Regions from separate parts of the Homo sapiens genome. Here region 2 is linked to region 1. Evidence: fine-mapped expression QTL. A gene starts in region 1. The other region holds a variant in brackets. All regions are shown on one strand. Distances are between the middles of the regions.

Region 1 (8,648 bases):
ATGCAATGGCGCTGGGTGTGAACCCAGGAGGGCCGGCCCCCGAGGCCTCTCCACTGGGACACCCAGGCTGTGGTGGTCACAGTGCCTGACCTGCATCCCGGGAGGCGGCCAGGGCGGGAGAGAATGGGGAACTTTCCGTCCCCAGTGTCCTCAGCCTCCGCCTGGGCCCTGCTGACTTGCAACAAGAGACACCACAATCCCACTGACCCTTTTTTTTTTTTTTTTTTGAGATACGATTCTGCTGTCACCCAGGCATGCAGTGGCACGATCACAGCTCAGTGCAGCCTCAGCCTCCCAGGCTCAGGTGATCCTCCTGCCTCAGCCTCCTGAGTAGCTGGAACTACAGGTACATACCATTACGTCTAGCTACTTCTTTTAATTTTTTTTTAGTAGAGACAGGGGTCTTGCTATGTTGCTCCAGGCTGGTCTCAAACTCCTGAGATCAAGTGATCCTCCTGCTTCAGCCTCCCAAAATGCTGGGATTACAGGTGTGAGCCACCGTGCCCGGCCTCCCTGACCTTTTTACACAGACCACCACAGCTACAGGGAGGCCCTGGTGGCGGTGCTGACTCCCTGCCCGGCCGCCCTGTGACCACACTACACTGTGCTCCAGGCAGGCGGGGCCTCTGCTGGGGCCATGCCCTCTTCCTGCCCAATGCCCACAGGTCTCCCTCGGATGCCACCTTCTTGGCAAGGCCTTCCCAGCCACCCCATTCTACCTTACCCTTCCTCCCTGGCACTGCTGGCCTCATGCACCTGATGTTCACCAGGATCTGCACTGTGCTGAGCTCTTCCGGGCGCAGGGGATGCCGCAGGAGTGGCACAGACGGTCTTGGCCCTCGTGGAGCTCTCGCTCAGGAGGAGATGGTCAGAAAACACGTCAGCAGAGCCATATGTTTCAGGTGGTGACAAACGCTATGGTGGCACAATCAGGGAAGAGGAACCGGGAGGGCAGGGGACGGAGAAGGGGAGACCGCTGTGTGGTGACAGCAGGGCAGGGAGGCCTCACGGAGAGGAGATGCTCCCACAAAACCTGGAAAGCGCTAAGGGAGCAAAGGACACAGATGGGAGGAGGGGCATTCCGGGGTGGGGGTGGGGGGCAGCCGTGCAAAGGCCCCGGGGCAGGACCATGCCCTGCATGCTGGAGGAACAGCAAGGGGCCCATGGGCCTACAGCAGAGTGCAGACGGGAGGGCAGGGAGGGCAGAGTGCGGAGGGGAGGGCAGGGAGGGCAGGGAGGGCCCGGGGCAGGCTGTGCAGGGCCTGATGGGCTTCAAAGAGGACTATGTCTTTGACCCCAAGGGAGGTGGGAGCCATGGAGGGCTGCGAGCAGAGGAGGGTCGGGACTCGGGCCGCTGGTTTTTAATGGGGTCCTCCTGGAATGTGGGACAGGGAGCAGAGGAAGAGCAGGGGCGCCAGGCCTGGCTCAGGGGGCAAAGGAGGACTGAGCTGGACCGAGGAGGACTGAGCTGGACGGAGGAGGATCGAGCTGGACCGAGGAGGACCGAGCTGGACAAAGGAGGACTGAGCTGGACCGGGGAGGACCGAGCTGGACCAAGGAGGACCGAGCTGGACCGAGGAGGACCAAGGAGGACCGAGCCAGACGAAGGAGGACTGAGCCGGACGAAGGAGAACCGAGCCGGACAGAGGAGGACCAAGCTGGACTGGGGAGGACTGAGCCGGATGGAGGAGGACTAAGCTGGACCGGGGAGGACCGAGCTGGACCCGGGAGGACCGAGCCAGATGGAGGAGGACCAAGCCGGATAGAGGACCGAGCCGGATGGAGGAGGACTGGGCCGGACGGAGGAGGACCGAGCTGGACCGGGGAGGACCGAGCCAGACAGAGGAGGACTGAGCCAGACGGAGGAGGACTGAGCTGGACCGGGGAGTACTCAGCCAGACGGAGGAGGACCGAGCTGTACGGAGGAGGACCGAGCTGGACCGAGGAGGACCGAGCTGGACCGGGGAGGACCGAGCTGGACCAGGGAGGACCAAGCTGGACCCGGGAGGACCAAGCTGGACCCGGGAGAGGCAGAGGACAGGGAAGGAGTCAGTGGGTTCTGGGCCAGTTCTGAAGGTGAAGCTGCCATCATTTGCTGCCAGATCAGCCGTGGAAGTGGGGCAGGGGCAGGGATGCAGCTGACCTTTCCAGGGCATCACAGAGACAGATCAGCCGTGGGAGTGGGGCAGGGGCAGGGATGGAGCTGACCGTTCTGGGGCATCACAGAGACAGGACAGCCTGGGAGAGGCTCAGACACGCCCAGGCCACAGCTCAGACCAAACTCCACCACAGGCCATCGGCCCACACAGTGGGCACAGCCGCATCCCAAGCCCCGGCCTTCCCGAGACCGCCCCCACGTGCCCCACGGCCACGGCCCATGGAGACGCCATTCAGGCCACGCCTCGGGAGCCAGGAGCCCAGGCAATTAGAGGAACCAAATTCTAAACACCAACGAGACATTGCTTTGCCTCCCATCGGATCAGCCGAAATCGCCAAGGACGATGACACTGGGAGCTGGCAGTGCCGTGGGAAACGGGCAGCCTCCCTCGGCCCCTGTCGGACAAGGCTCCCGCTGTAGCTGAGCTTTCTGGAAGGTGTCGCCATCGCTTCTAACAGTGAGCGGTGACTCCAGAAACCACGGGCATGGGCCTCAGCAGGGGCCTGGAGGCACCGATGGTGGAGAGGCCGGAAAGGGGTGGCCAACCGGCACGACAATCACCAAGCACGAGCGCCAACTCATCCCAGGCTCAGCCCCTAGCACACACGGTCATCACCCCACTTCACAGACGGGACGCTGAAGCCCGGGGAAGTGACGGCCACACAGCACCTGAAGCGCGGAGCTGGGAGGGGGACATCGGCGGGACCAACTCTGGGGCTCCCCCTTAACCACTGCCTGGCGCTCGCCCTCTCTACAAACCGATACCAACATAGGGTGGGGAGACTCCAGATGACCAGAGATAAAAAGCAAGCAGTTCACAGAGTCATAAACGTGTGGCATTTCTCACCAGGGCCGTCCTGCCCCCAGGGGACACTGAACGGTGTCTGGGTCACTTGTGGCTGTCACAACTGGCAGGTGCTCCTGGCATGGAGTGGGCAGAAGCCAGGGGCGTTGCTCAGCACCCCTAATTTCCTGACTCAAAATACCTCTGCCAAGGCACAGAAGCCCCAGTGAGGCATGAAACCATCTCGGTGAAGAACAAGCAGGCCCCTTTATGTGCTCACGTCTCTGTGGCCCAGCCAGGCACAACCTAAACTCACCAGCGCTAACATCAGGAGGGATGGCGTTGGAGGAGTGAGGCAACTCTGAATTTTAAACATTCAGAAGCAGTATATGGCCAGCTGGGGTCAGATTTCTGTGGATTTCAGGGATGGGCAGAGATGCCAGACCCTGACCTTCCAGCCCTCCCCGGCCCCCCACCCCCACCCCCCCACTCCCCCGCTCTCCCACCCCACCACCATGCTCAGTCTGGAGCTGGCAACTTTATCTGTCCCCGGTGCTCCCAGAGCCCCTGATAAGATGAATGGTCGCGGTGTGGTTTTCTTTTGGTCAGCGAGTCCTGGGCTACTTTGTCTCTGACCAGCTGGGGTCAGAGGGCTGACAGCGGAAGTTGGGGGGCCCAAGAAAGGAACCCGGGCTGGGGCCTGGTGCCCTGCCTGGGTTCCTCCACCATGTCTCTTGCTGGCCAGGCCAGGACACCGGCTGCCCGCAAAGAAAGGGGCGAGGCCACTGGCTCTGGGGAAGGAACCGGGTCACCTACCAAGCGGTTCCAGATGGCCGCCGGGAGGGAAGCCACGAGTGTCTTTCAAGGCGGGGGGTGGGGGGGGGACTTGATGACTTCCACACTCTCTCTCTCTCCAGACATCTCCCCAACTCCCAGGCAGCACGCATCGCCCGCCCGCCCGCTTGCCCGCCTGCCAACCAAGGAAGCTTCGGGAGGCCTGGGGGGAGAAGGAGGACGGATGCCCGTGTGGGTGTCTACAGAGACGCTGCTGCTGGCTGCCTGGGAGGAGCAGAGGATTTTGTGAATCCGGAAACTTCCGATTTGGGAGCTTGTGACCTCGACTGAGAAGGAACTGTTCCCTTCCTCTGGGCTCTGCACACCGTCCCCACAGAAGGGAAGGCCCAGCTGCCGCCACCTACCCGGCTGGAGGTCCAGGAAGCAGCTAAAGGGGGCATGAGACAGCCGTGCCCCCCGCCCAGCCCGCAGCCCCACCAGTGTGTCCTGGGGGAAGGCTCGGGGAGAGGAAAAGGGGGCGACAGGGCACCCTGTGTGCACAGCCGGGGCGGTGGAGGCATCTTGAGATGTAACCCTTTTCCTCCCCTCATTTTAGCAGGGAGGTAAACTGAGGCCCAGGAAGGTGAGGAAAGGTCGCGCACCCGGACTCAGGTCTGGGGACTTACAGAAAGGGAGGTGACATCAGGAGGTGGGCACGCACGGCCTCAGAGACCCCCGCCTCCACCCAAGCAGCCGCCACTCACACGACGGGCAGCCCCTGGGAGCGGGTCAGGCAGAACGGGGATCCCCAGCGGCGCCCACGCCGAGTCGCCCCCGGCCCGGGAGCGGTGGGAGGTAGCCCCTCGCAGGCCTCCCGCTTCCCGGCGCGGCTTCAGCCCCGTCCTCCCCGCGGCTCCAGGGGACTGCCCCGCCCCAGGCTCCTGGAACCGGCGGCGCCCCCGCAGCGACCGTGCAGCCCCCGCCCCGGCCCCGCAGCCCCGCGACTCTCGGCGCTCGGACGAGCCCAGCGGGCCGCAGCCCCGGGAGGCCGGGCCGTTACCTGCCGCCGCCCCGCTCTCTGCCGCCCACGCCGCCTCCGAGGGCACGGCCCCCGCCTCAGCGCTCTCCGCCTCGTCCGGTACCTCCAGCTCCATGGCCGCGCGCGGACGGCGGCGGGGGCGCCCGAGGGGGACCCGAGCTGCGACCGCCGCCGCCGAACAACAAGCGCCGCCGGCCAAGGGAGGGCGCGCCGGGCCGGCGCGGGGCGGACGGGGCGGGGCCTGCGTGCGTGCGACGCCGCGGACGGCGCGCGGCCAATCGGGGCTCGGGGGCGGGGCCTGCTTGCGACCCGCAGCCAGGAGCGCCTCGAGTGCCCCCTCGCGCCCAGGGGTGGGAGTACAGAGCCAGGCTCGCCATTCCATCGTATTAGGTCAGTAAGATTGACAGGCACGATACGTATCAATAACATTGCTGTGCACAACACATACCAATAACATGGATCTACACAACACATGACAATAATATGGATCTATACAGCACGTGCCAATAATATGGATGTACACAGCACATGCCAATAACATGGATCTAAACAGCACATGCCAATAACAGGGACCTGCACAGCGCATGACAATAACATGGATCTGGCCGGGCGCGGTGACTCACGCCTATATTCCCGGCACTTTGGGAGGCCGAAGAGGGCGGATCACCTGAGGTCAGGAGTTCAAGACCATCCTGACCAACATGGTGAAATCCTGTCTCTACTAAAAATACAAAAAATAGCTGGGCGTGGTGGCACATGCCTGTAATCGCGGCTACTCGGGAGGCTGAGGCAGGAGAATCGCTGGAACCCAGGAGGGAGAGGTTGCAGTGAGCTGAGATCGCACCATTGCCCTCCAGCCTGGGCCACAGAGTGAGACTCTGTCCCAAAAAAAACCACACATGGACCTACACAGCACATGCCAATAACATGGAGTTACCCAATGCATGCCAATAACATGGATATACACAATACATGCCAATAACACGGATATGCACAATACATGCCAATAACATGGATATACACAATACATGCCAATAACATGAATCTATACTATATCATTGACATGGATCTACATAAAACATACAAATAGCATTGCTATATGCAATACATGCCAATCACATTGCTATACACAATGAATACCAATAACATTGATCTACACAATACATGTAACTAACATTGATACACACACTACATGTCAATAACATTGATATACACACTACATGCCAATAACATGGATATACACACTACATGCCAATAACATTGATATACACACTACATGCCAATAACATTAATGTACACACTACATGTCAATAACATTGATATACACACTACATGTCAATAACATTGATATGCACAAAATATACCAATAACAGTGATATACACAGTACATGTAAATAATATTGATCTACACAGGGCCGGGCGCGGTGGCTCATGCCTGTAATCCCAAGACTTTGGGAGGCCGAGGCGGGCGGATCACGAGGTCAGGAGATTGAGACCATCCTGGTTAACATGGTGAAACCCCGTCTCTACTAAAAATACAAAAAATTAGCCAGGCGTGGTGGCGGGCGCCTGTAGTCCCAGCTACTTGGGAGGCTAAGGCAGGAGAATAGGGTGAACCTGGGAGGCAGAGCTTGCAGTGAGCTGAGATCGTGTCACTGCACTCCAGCCTGGGCAACAGAGCGAGACTCCATATCAAAAAAAAATATATATATATATAGATCTACACAATACATGTTATTAACATTGATCTACGCAATACATATCAATAACATTTGCAATTAACTACCTGTTTATTATCATATTGCAAATAATATTTATATTCCATCGTTTGTATTACGTAAGTATAGATATGTTATTGTTTTCTTTATATTATTTTATCAATAATAATACAGTTTGCTATTATAAGAAACATATAATTATAGAAATACATAATAAATTATATATATTTATGCAAATGTAAGTAGCAATATTTATATCCTTCTTTTTTTTTTTTGAGATGGAGTCTTGCTGTTGTTGCCCAGGCTGGAGTGCAGGGGGGCGATCTGAGCTCACTGCAACCTCTGCCTCCAGGGTTCAAGTGATTCTCCTGCCTCACCCTCCCAAGTAACTAGGACTACAGGTACGTGCCACCACGCCCGGCTAATTTTTGTATTTTTAGTAGAGATGAGGTTTCGCCATGTTGGCCAGGCTGGTCTTGAACGCCTGACCTCGTGATCTTCCCGCCTCAGCTTCCCAAAGTGCTGGGATTACAGGTGTGAGCCACTGCGCCCGGCCATATTTATGTTCTTTATATAAGCACATAATAAGGCTTATGTTGTTTATGTTAATTTAAGTAATAACGTTTATATTATTTACATAAATGTAAATCATAATGATTATATTACCTATGCACATAAATAATGTTTGGGGTGGGCACAGAGGCTCCCGCCTGTAATTCCAGCACTTTGGGAGGCCAAGGCAGGAGGATTACTTGAGCTCAGGAGTTCTAGACCAGCCTGGGTAACATAGTGAGCCCTCTCATCTCTACAAAAAAAATTTTTTTAATTAGCTAGGTGTAGTGAGACCCCTCATCTTTACAAAAAAAATTGTTTTTTAATTAGCCAGCTACTTAGTAGGCTAAGGTGGGAGGACTGCTTGAGCCCGGGAACTCAAGGCTGCAGTGAGCTATGATCGCACCACTGCACTCTGGCCTGGGCAACAGAGAAAGACCCCGTCTGTCCCCGCAAAAAAAAAAAACAAACAAAAAAAACAAAAAGACAAATTCTGTGTGGTTCCACTCCTAGGAGGTCCCTAGAGTTGTCACATTCACAGAGACAGAAAGTAGGATGGGGGGTGCCAGGGGCTTGGGGGGAGACGAGGAGTGAGTGTTTCACAGGGGCAGACTTCCAGTCTCAGAAGATGAGAACATTCTGGAGATGATGGCGGTGATGTTTGCACAGCCATGGGAATGTGCTTAAGGCCACGGAGCTGTGCTCTTAGACATGGTGAAAATGGGCCGGGCGCGGGGGCTCACACCTGCAATCCCAGCACTTTGGGAGGCCGAGGTGGGCGGATTACCTGAGGTCGGGAGTTCAAGACCAGCCTGACTAACATGGAGAAACCCCGTCTCTACTAAAAATACAAAATTAGCCAGGCGTGGTGGCGCGTGCCTGTAATCCCAGCTACTCGGGAGGCTGAGGCAGGAGAATCACTTGAACCCGAAAGGCAGAGGTTGCAGTGAGCCAACATGGCACCACTGCACTCCAGCCTGGGCGACAGAGCAAGACTCTGTCTCCAAAAAAAAAAAAAAAAAAAAAAGAAGAAGAAGAAGAAGAAAGAAATGGTGAAAATGGGCCGGGTGCGGTGGCTCACGCCTGTCATCCCAGCACTTTGGGAGGCCGAGGCTGGCAGATCACCTAAGGTCAGGAGTTCAAGACCAGCCTGGTCAATGTGGTGAAACCCTGTCTCTACTAAAAATACCAAAAAATTAGCTGGGCATAGTGGCACAGGCCTATAATCCCAGCTACTCGGGAGGCTGAGGCAGGAGAATCACTTGAACCTGAGAGGCAGAGGTTGCAGTGAGCCAACATGGCACCACTGCACTCCAGCCTGGGCAACAGAGCAAGACTCGAAAAAAAAGAAATGGTGAAAATTGTGAATTGTATGTTGTGCGTATTTTACTACCATTTTTTGTTTTTTCTTTTTTGAGATGAGTCTTGCTCTGTTACCCAGGCTGGAGTGCAGTGGCGTGATCTCGGCTTACTGCAGCCTCTGCCTCCCAGGTTCAAGCGATCCTCCCACCTCAGCCTCCCAAGTAGCTGAGACCACAGGTGTGTGCTACCATACCTGGCTAATTTTTGTAATTTCAGTAGAAATGGGATTTCACTGTGTTGGCCAGGCTGGTGTCAGGTGAT
Region 2 (8,648 bases), 66 kb before region 1:
TTTGAGACATTTTCTTGCTCTGTCGCCCAGGCTGGAGTGCAGGGGCATGATCTCAGCTCACTGCAAACTCTGCCTCCCAGGTTGGAGCAATTCTCTGGCCTCAGCCTCCCGAGTAGCTGGGATTACAGGTGTGAGCCATCACGCCTGGCCAGGATCTTGTTTTCAATGTAGTTTCTCAACCTGGGAGTCCAAGATAAATGTGTTCCCTTCAAGGGGTCCAAACGTGACTGAATTGGAACCGCTCTAGCAGAACAAATACAAACTTTGGGGGGCTGCAAAGATGTTGGAAACAATAAAATGTTTTCTGAGCTGAACTGGGACCTGAAGAAGGTTCACAGCTGGTAAGGTGTTTGGGTCCTATTACTGGTATCAGCATCAATCTCACAAAGGTTTCTCTCTTCTCTAAGATTCAAAGTCAGTCCTCAGGCCAGGCACGGTGGCTTACGCCTGTAATCTCAGCACTTTGGGATGAGGCGGGTGGGTCCTTTGAGGTCAGGAGTTTGAGACCAGCCTGGCCAATGTGGTGAAACCCCGTCTCTACTAAAAATACAAAAAAATTAGCCAGGTGTGGTGGCGGGCGCCTGTGGTCCCAGCTACTCGGGAGGCTGAGGCAGGAGAATGGCTTGAACCCGGGAGGCAGAGGTTGCAGTGAGCTGAGATCACTCCACTGCGCTCCAGCCTGGGCAACAGAACGAGACTCCATCTCAAAAAAAAAAAAAACAAAACACAGGCTGGGTGCGGTGGCTCACACCTGTAATCCCAGCACTTTGGGAGGCCGAGGTGGGCGGATCACGAGGTCAGGAGATCGAGACCATCCTGGCTAACATGGTGAAACCCTGCCTCTACTAAAAATAAAAAATTAGCTGGGCGTGGTGGCGGGCGCCTGTAGTCCCAGCTACTCAGGAGGCTGAGGCAGGAGAATGGTGTGAACCCAGGAGACGGAGCTTGCAGTGAGCTGAGATTGCGCCACTGCACTCCAGCCTGGGTGGAGAGCGAGACTCCATCTCTTAAAAAGAAAACAAACAAACAAACAAAAACAGAAAACAAAAAACACAGAACAAAGTCACTCCTCAGACTCCCAACCAGACCTCCGGAACCCACAGAAAGGCAAACAGGCGGATGCTTATTACCCGATTTATTAGAGAGATCTCTAAAAAGACGGGGTGTGGCGGGGGTAGGTGGGCGAGGAACCTGGGATGCAAACCAGTGTTTGGGGCCAGGAGTGGCTGTATGGTTTCAGAGGCGCCCACCACTCTGGGTTTGAGGGACACAGCACCCTCGTCTCGGCGCTTTGGATTGTCACGCACCAGACCACGGGGCGGAGGAATGGAGTGGCATCCCTGGGGGGAGTTAAGACACACGAGGTTTGCAGTTTCATTTTGTTTCAGAATCAGTTTGGCCATAAAAATGGGACTGGGTTGGGGACAGGCGGAGCGATTGAACCACCGGAGATGAGGAGGAGGTGGCAGGCGCCTCTCCTGGGGTGGGGACTGAGGGCTGTGGAGACAGTACCATGGTGAAGGACCCCATGGCAATGGGAGTATTGCACTGAGCCAGGTTTCGGGGGAACGGGGACGTGTCGGGATGGCGTAGGGGGACAGAGCCTGGCAGGAGACACATGGAAGTTTCCGCCTTGTCAGTCTCAGAGCAAACGCCTTTTAGTCTTTACAGTACAGGAATTTGGACACTGCCCACGTTCTCAGTGGACAGCAGCCATCAGAGGTGACCCAGGAGGGGAAGTGGGCATTGGTCACCAAGGTATTTACAGACTTCTATCATGGGGGACAGCGGGGTGGGTCCAGCAGCCTCCCTCGCGGGGGATCTGAGGGAGACCGAGTTCGCTAAATATTATAAATAGGTCTTGCCGTCCTCCTGCCCCCGCCCCTCGGCACAGTCAGTGGAGCACGTCAGCCTCGGTTTACAGTTCTCTGAAAAGGAACCAAAAAACACAACCAACACCAAGTATATCTCCAAAAGGGCCTTGGAGACAACACAAGAATGGAAATGAAATGGTATCCACAGAGGTTTGCACATTTCTCCTGCAAAGGCGCGTCGGCCGGGCACTGGTGTCCCGTGTCACTCAGCGGAGGGAGGCTGCCCTGGACGCGGTGCCGCCCGCCCGGGGCCACACCTGCTGCTCCGAGTCACCCCACAGGCTCTTGGCGTCTCTGGTGCCAGGGCTCTGGGCAGGGCGACTCGAGGACTCCCTGGGAGGACTGGTGTGGCCTCTGGGGGTTGGGCCTTTGAGATGACAATGCCCCTGTCCCTGCTGGCCATCCAGGTCCCAGACACCCCTTCTGACCTCTGCCCCTGCCTCCCCGGGGGGTGCCTGCTGGGTGTCCTTCGGAGGGACAGGGCGGGGGCTGATGGGTGGATGCCCGGTGCCAGCAGATGAGCACCAGGCTGTGAACTGAGGCCAAGGTCGCTTCCCAGGGCTGGACAGACCCTCTGAGCACGCAGGGAGGACCCCACGTGGGCTTGTCCTGATGGATGCTGGGAGCCACGCGGCTGGCCGGTTCCCGAGGAGGGTCGGCCCCTCTCCTGGGCAGAGTGGAGGGGCTGCTCTCGTGGAGTGTGTGTCCTCGCTGGGGACCTCGGGGATGGGTCCGGCTTCTCCACAGCAGGGGCCTTCCGGGCGCAGCGTGTGGGCTGTGCAGGAGGCCGACGGGACGTGAACAGCGGGTGGCGTGGCGTCATACGGAGGTTGTAACAGACAAAACACAGAGCCCTGCCTGGGAGGTTCTCCGGCCGTCTCAGACCCCACACCAGGCTCTGCCAGGTCTGGAGAGGAATTCTTCCCAAAGGTGCAGCTTCCACTCCAGCTCCTCACATCCTGGGCACATCTTGGAAGTGGGGGATTCCCACAGCCATCACCAATAAGCCCCTCTCAGGGGTCCTGGGGAAGGGCAGGGTGGGTGACTCTGCCGAGCTCTGGCCTCCAACCAGCACCCTCTGAGCGCAGCGGGCCCAGGAAGCTGCCCCAGGGCAGTCTGGGCTGAGTCCCACCACTGGGAGCGCTGCCCTCTTGGAGGGTGATGAGTCGGAAACAAAGTCTTCTCTCCCCTCCTCGGAGACATCACATCACTTAAACAAGAAAGAGGCGGCGGACATCCACACCAGTCCTGAAGGAGACTCCTGTGGAGCCGGGCCTGGCCCCCTAGGCCATGTCTCCACGTGGAGGGGGCGGGGAGCCTGACCTTCCGCCCTGAGCTGGTCTCCTGTGGCCCAAGGCCCGGCCTCCCGCTCTGTCCTGCCATGGAGAAAACGTCTCCGTTGCCTGGGCCCTCCATGCCAGTTGCTGAGTGGCCTACGTTGGAAGAGAAGGACAAGTCCCCAGCCCTGAGCTCCGCCAGCGTGGGTGGCAGCCTGGGGAAGAGGAGGCCTGGCCCTCCAGCTGTGGTGGGTCTGGATTGGAGGCGCCAGAGGTTTTTGCTCGAGGGGCACCTGGGAGGTGGGCGTCAGGGCCCCACTGCGGCGGGAACATAGCTGCTGAGTGGCCGCAGTGCTTGGCAGGGCGAGGGCTGTCCCCACAGTCGATGTTCAGGCCAGATGTCCTGCACTGAGGCCCCCAAACCCAAGCTGAGGGCAGGAGGGTCCGCTTCCCACGTGGATGGAGGCAGAGTTGCTCGGGACCCCAGCCGTCCCCTCTGCAGGCCGATGGGGCCCCCGGGGCTCAGGTCCCCAGAGGCCACCGCGAACAGCCTGGCTTCTTCCTCAGGACACAGGCAGGCACAGCAGAGAACCAAAGAGTGCAGTGGGCAGGGGCTCTTCTCCCTCTGGTTGGTTTGTTTGTGTCTTTTTTGTTCTTTTCCTAAAACGGCACACACGTGCTTCCGTCTCTGTGCCAAATAAGGACTCAAATGCGATTGGCCGCTCGGGAGGGTGGGTCTCACAGGGGCAGGCTGCCGACCGGGGTGCCGGGGCCCTGGGAGGCTTGTCGGGGAGGGGCCCGGCCGTCGGCATCCGTGCAGGGGGAGGACGAGGTCCGGTGGGGCGGCGAGGCGGGCATCTCCCGAGCTCTGGGCCTCAGCGGGGTGGGCAGCGCCTTCGGGGGCAGCCGGAGCAGAAGTGGAGCTCGGCTCTGGGTCGGGGGCTGCATAGAAATTACTGCAAGAGCAAGAGGACAGGTGA[A/G]GGTGGGCGGGGCGAGGGCCCACCCCAGGCCCCCTGCCAGGGACTGGCTTCCTTGGGCCAACACAGGCCCTGAGACACTTAGCCCACGGCCACCTCAGAGCCAGAGAGCCCAGGGTGGAGCTCTGGGCCACCTGTGCCCTCCCGCCCCGGGCCTCAGTCCCTGCCTATCCCAGTAGCTGGGGACCACGCTCAGTAGAACCTTGGAGCCCACGGGACCGGCGGGTGCACCTGGGCTGCACTTACTGTGTCGCTCTCGCCGTCGGAGGCCGGGGGGGCCTGGGCGCTATAGTGGAGCGGGGAGTACACCCAGCTCCTCTCATCGGTGGGCTGGCAGGTGGGCGCGCGTGCAGGAGGGCGCGGAAGAGCAGGGTGCGAGGAGGTGCAAGAGAGGCAGAGGGAGGAAGGAAGAGACAGGAGAACATAAAAGAGGCGAATCCCCCATGGAAGACGAGGGGTGGCTCAGCCCAGCTGCCCTCTCTGACCCGGTGGACTTGCTCCCAACCTGGACGGGCCTGGGGCCTCAGCTCAGCTTGGCGGGGCGGGGCACGGCGGGCGGCAGAAAGCAGTTAGTTCAGTCGAGGCAGGGCCTGAGATAGCAGGTGACAGAGCCGGCGGAAGCGGGTGGGGGTCGCGACCTGGAGCACCGAGTGTTCCTCCTCCTCCTCCTCCTCCACAGCCCGGCCCCACCACAGCCCCCAATCCTGCCTGTGCCACGGGCACCAGCGCACAGGCTCCTGGAAGCTCTCTATGGGGGTCCTGGGAGGTCGGGGTGCCGGACCTACTTCCCAACCCAGAAGCCTTTTGGGACCTGAATATATGGCTGCCTGCGGGCAGGGCCAGTCCCCTCTGCCAGCACAGACGTGCTAGGAGAGACTGAGGCTCGGACCACCCACCCTGCAAGAGCCAGGAGACGCCTTCCTGAGCAGCAGGGCAGAGTGAGGGCCAAGTTCAGGGCTAGGCACAGGCAGGGCCGTGTGCAGGGACACGGACAGCTCTTCCCAGCTGTGCCTGCGTGAGGGGTCCCAGGTCTGGGTGGGATCTGGGGAGGGAGGGAGGGTGCGTTCCTCCAACACCTCCGTCCCGCCTCCTGAGGAGCCCCCACCCCCTCAAGCTCCCCCTGCTTCTCCTGCCCCTAGGCTGCTCTGCTTTCTCAGGGCTCCAGCCTGGCCGCCCTGTCTTCCTTGTTGTGTCCTCCTCTCTCTCGGGCCTCTGTCACCAACCCAGCCTTCAACGCCCCTCCCGGCACAGATGACCTGCGAATTTCCACCAGGCCTGGCCTCGGCCTGAAGTGCCAGGCCTGAATACACACCTGCCTGGCCACGTCCACCTGGCGGCCCTCGGCCCCTAAACTCGCCACAGTCACAACCCAGTCCATCACCCCAAGACCCACTGCTCGTCCTTCCAGTCAGGATGACGCTGCCCACCTGCTGCCCAGGCCAACCCATGCCTCTGCCAGCTCCCAGTTGCCCAGCCTGGGCCAGCAGGGGCCTCCCTTGTGCTCCAGGTGAGCCCAGACCTCACCTGCAGGAGCACTGCCTCTCCCTGCCTCGGGCTCTGCCTCCATGCTCCCTCTAAAGGGCCCACCTCTGTGCTCACTCCACCCTGCCCGATCCTACAGCTTCCACAAGACCCCTGTTCCCGGGCCCTGGGCACCGAGGGCAGCGCACTCCTGCCCTGCGAGGCCGCATCGCGGAGGACTGACTCCTGCACTGAGGGGCCAGGACCCCAGCGCAGGCCTTGCCTGTTCCTCCAGGGTAGCAAATGCAGCCTGGAATCCCTGACGTGGGAATGGCAGGTCAGGTCCACCCAACGTCCCTTGAGAGCCCGGCATGGGGAGCCTATGTGGGTGCTCAGTACTGATTTGGTGGCTGCACTGATGGATCCCATGGGGACTTGAAAATGTGGGGCCAAAACAGGGTCCCCACCTGAGCCCTGAAAGAACTGGCCCGCAGGGAGGAGGGTGGCAGCAGCCACCTCAGAGCCGCTCTCTGGGAGGGGCATCCCGGGCACACACAGCACGTGGGCAGGGATGACAGTATCCTTCTGCTACAGCATTAGAAACGGGGATACAGGCCAGGTGCAGGAGCTCACGCCTGTCATCCCAGCACTTTGGGAGGCCAAGGCAGGTGGATCACTTGAGGTCAGGAGTTCAAGACCAGCCTGGCCAATATGGCGAAACCCTATCTCTACTAAAAATACAAAGATTAAGGCCGGGCGTGGTGGCTCACGCCTGTAATCCCAGAACTTTGGGAGGCCGAGGTGGGCAGATACCTGAGGTCAGGAGTTCGAGACCAGCCTGGCCAACATGGTAAAACCCCATCTCTTACTAAAAATACAAAAAATTATTGGGGCATGGTGGCAGGAGCCTGTAATCCCAGCAACTCGGGAGGCTGAGGCAGAAGAATCGCTTGAACCCAGGCCAGAGGTTGCAGTGAGCTGAAATTGAGCCACTGCATTCCAGCCTGGGTGACAGAGTGAGACTCCATCTCAAAAAAAACAAACAAGGCTGGGCGCGGTGGCTTACGCCTGTAATCCCAGCACTTTGGGAGGCTGAGGCGGGCAGATCACGAGGTCAGGAGATTGAGACCATCCTGGTGAACACGGTGAAACCTCGTCTCTACTAAAAATACAAAAAAATTAGCCAGGCATGATGGCGGGCGCCTGTAGTCCCAGCTACTCGGGAGGCTGAGGCAGGAGAATGGCGTGAACCCGGGAGGCGGAACTTGCAGCGAGCCGAGATTGTGCCACTGCACTCCAGCCTGGGCGACAGAACGAGACTCTGTCTCAAAAAACAAACAAACAAAAAACTCAAAATTAGCCAGGCATGGTGGCAGGCGCCTGTAATCTCAGCTACTCAGGAGGCTGAGGCAGGATAATTGCTTGTACCTGGGGGGTGGAGGTTGCAGTGAGCTGAGATCATGCCATTGCACTCCAGCCTGGGCGACAGAGCAAGACTCCGTCTCAAAAAATGAAAAAAAAGAAAGGGCAGGACAGGTGGCTTCCTTGTCCTGCAGGAGTTGGGGGGACAGAGAGGGACACCCTCAGCCAGCAGCTGGGCAGACAGGGGAAGTGGGGGGCAGTAGCAGCTGGGACCCAGAACCGGGTGACCCCAGGAAGACCAGAACCAAGGGCACAGCCTCTTCAGCACTCAGGCCTTGGGGTGCTTTCAATGGCTGCCCTGCCTCCCTTCTGGCCCCCACACTTCCGCTTCTGCTGTGCCTGCTGCCGAGACCACCCTCCCCACGTCTGCCCCTTCAAGTCAGGTGTTTTTCAAAGTCCAAGCACCCCCCTCCGTAGGCGGCCTCTGCGAACTGCTCCCTGCCTATGGTGGGGTGGCCAGCAGGGCCGCTGGGTCTCTCCAGTGCTCCTCCTCCCAGCAGGCCCCTCTGGGCAGCTCCTGGACGATCTCCGGGGCACGGCTTCGCGGTGGCTGGCTTCCCGCTGGCTCCGTGGGACGGAGCTGCCTAGAGCAGCCGGGGAAGTGGTCTCCACCTCTTGGGGTCACTCCACAGTGCCTGGCACACAGAGGTGCTCGGAGAGGTTTGCTGATGGGCGGGGAGTCACGGCGGCCTCGGCGGAGGCTTTGTCTCGAGGGGACACTCCTGCTTTGGGTCTGCGCCCCGTTCTGGCTGTGCGGTGCTGGGCAGGTCTCTTAGGCTCTCTGGGCCCCTTGCTTATTGGTCATAATGACAACAGCAGGCCCTGAGGATCTCACAGCTACGTGGGGCCCATGTGGCGTCCCAGGGGGACCTCCTTGAGAGCTTGGGGATCTGGATTTTGACTAAACCGTGTGGTCTCCCAGGCTCCCAGGGGAGCCGAGGCCTCAGCGCCTCCATCTGTGAGGTGGGTGTGGAGAGACCATCTCCTCCCCGTCTCCATGGCCCTGCGGTTCAGAGCCCGGCCCTGCAGCCACTCTGCTGACCTGTGCAACCTCCCCTGTGCAGCCAGCGGGGCCACGGGCAGCCAGGTCTGCACGAGTGAGAAGCGTCCACCCAAGACACCCTGACACGAGAGGGCTGGGTCCAGGGGCAGAGAGGGGCTCGCTGGGGTCTGGCCGGGGTCCGAAGCAGACCCTGGGCCTCAGCTGTGCACCTGGTGATGGTGCTGCCCTATGGAGCGCCCGGTTCGACGTGGGACCGAATGACATTCCCAGTGACGCATGCAGCCCAGCGCCTGGTCCGGGGCCAGCGTGGCTGACCTCAATTGCAGCCGTGATTTACCCAAAGCCCTTCTGGAAAACAACTGACGTCAGACACTGAGCTTCCGGCCGGGGACCTGCGGCTCCCTGCTGCCCGAGGGGCACTGCCCCTTCTCCCCAGGGTGGCCGGCTGCGGTCACTTACAGTCCCCGAGGCGCTCAGCGTCACGGCCCGCAGTCGGCGATGGCGGGGAGAGTAAATCCAGTACCTCCCATCCGTGAACTGGACGGGGCGGGCCGGGTGGGCCGGAGGAGGAAGGAAAACAGAGGACAGCGGATGAGGCGGCCACCCCCGTGGTCGGGTGGGAGAGGCGGAGGGA

Evidence for each region.
Region 2: its variant is fine-mapped to the expression of PIP5K1C in pancreas (GTEx, PIP 0.97).

Annotation. Positions count from the first base shown.
Region 1 is chr19:3,695,521-3,704,168 of GRCh38, forward strand. PIP5K1C (phosphatidylinositol-4-phosphate 5-kinase type 1 gamma) reads right to left here and starts at 4,948. Exons shown (of 18, transcript NM_012398.3): 1 at 4,777-4,948. The coding sequence starts at 4,870. RefSeq lists an enhancer at 4,005-4,788 and silencers at 4,487-4,626, 4,707-5,196.
Region 2 is chr19:3,629,063-3,637,710 of GRCh38, forward strand. PIP5K1C (phosphatidylinositol-4-phosphate 5-kinase type 1 gamma) reads right to left here. Exons shown (of 18, transcript NM_012398.3): 17 at 4,375-4,458; 18 at 1,121-4,107. The coding sequence ends at 4,105. Among named protein-coding and RNA genes, the nearest start is that of CACTIN, 6.6 kb to the left of the region's middle. The variant A/G (reference allele first, on the strand shown) is at 4,132.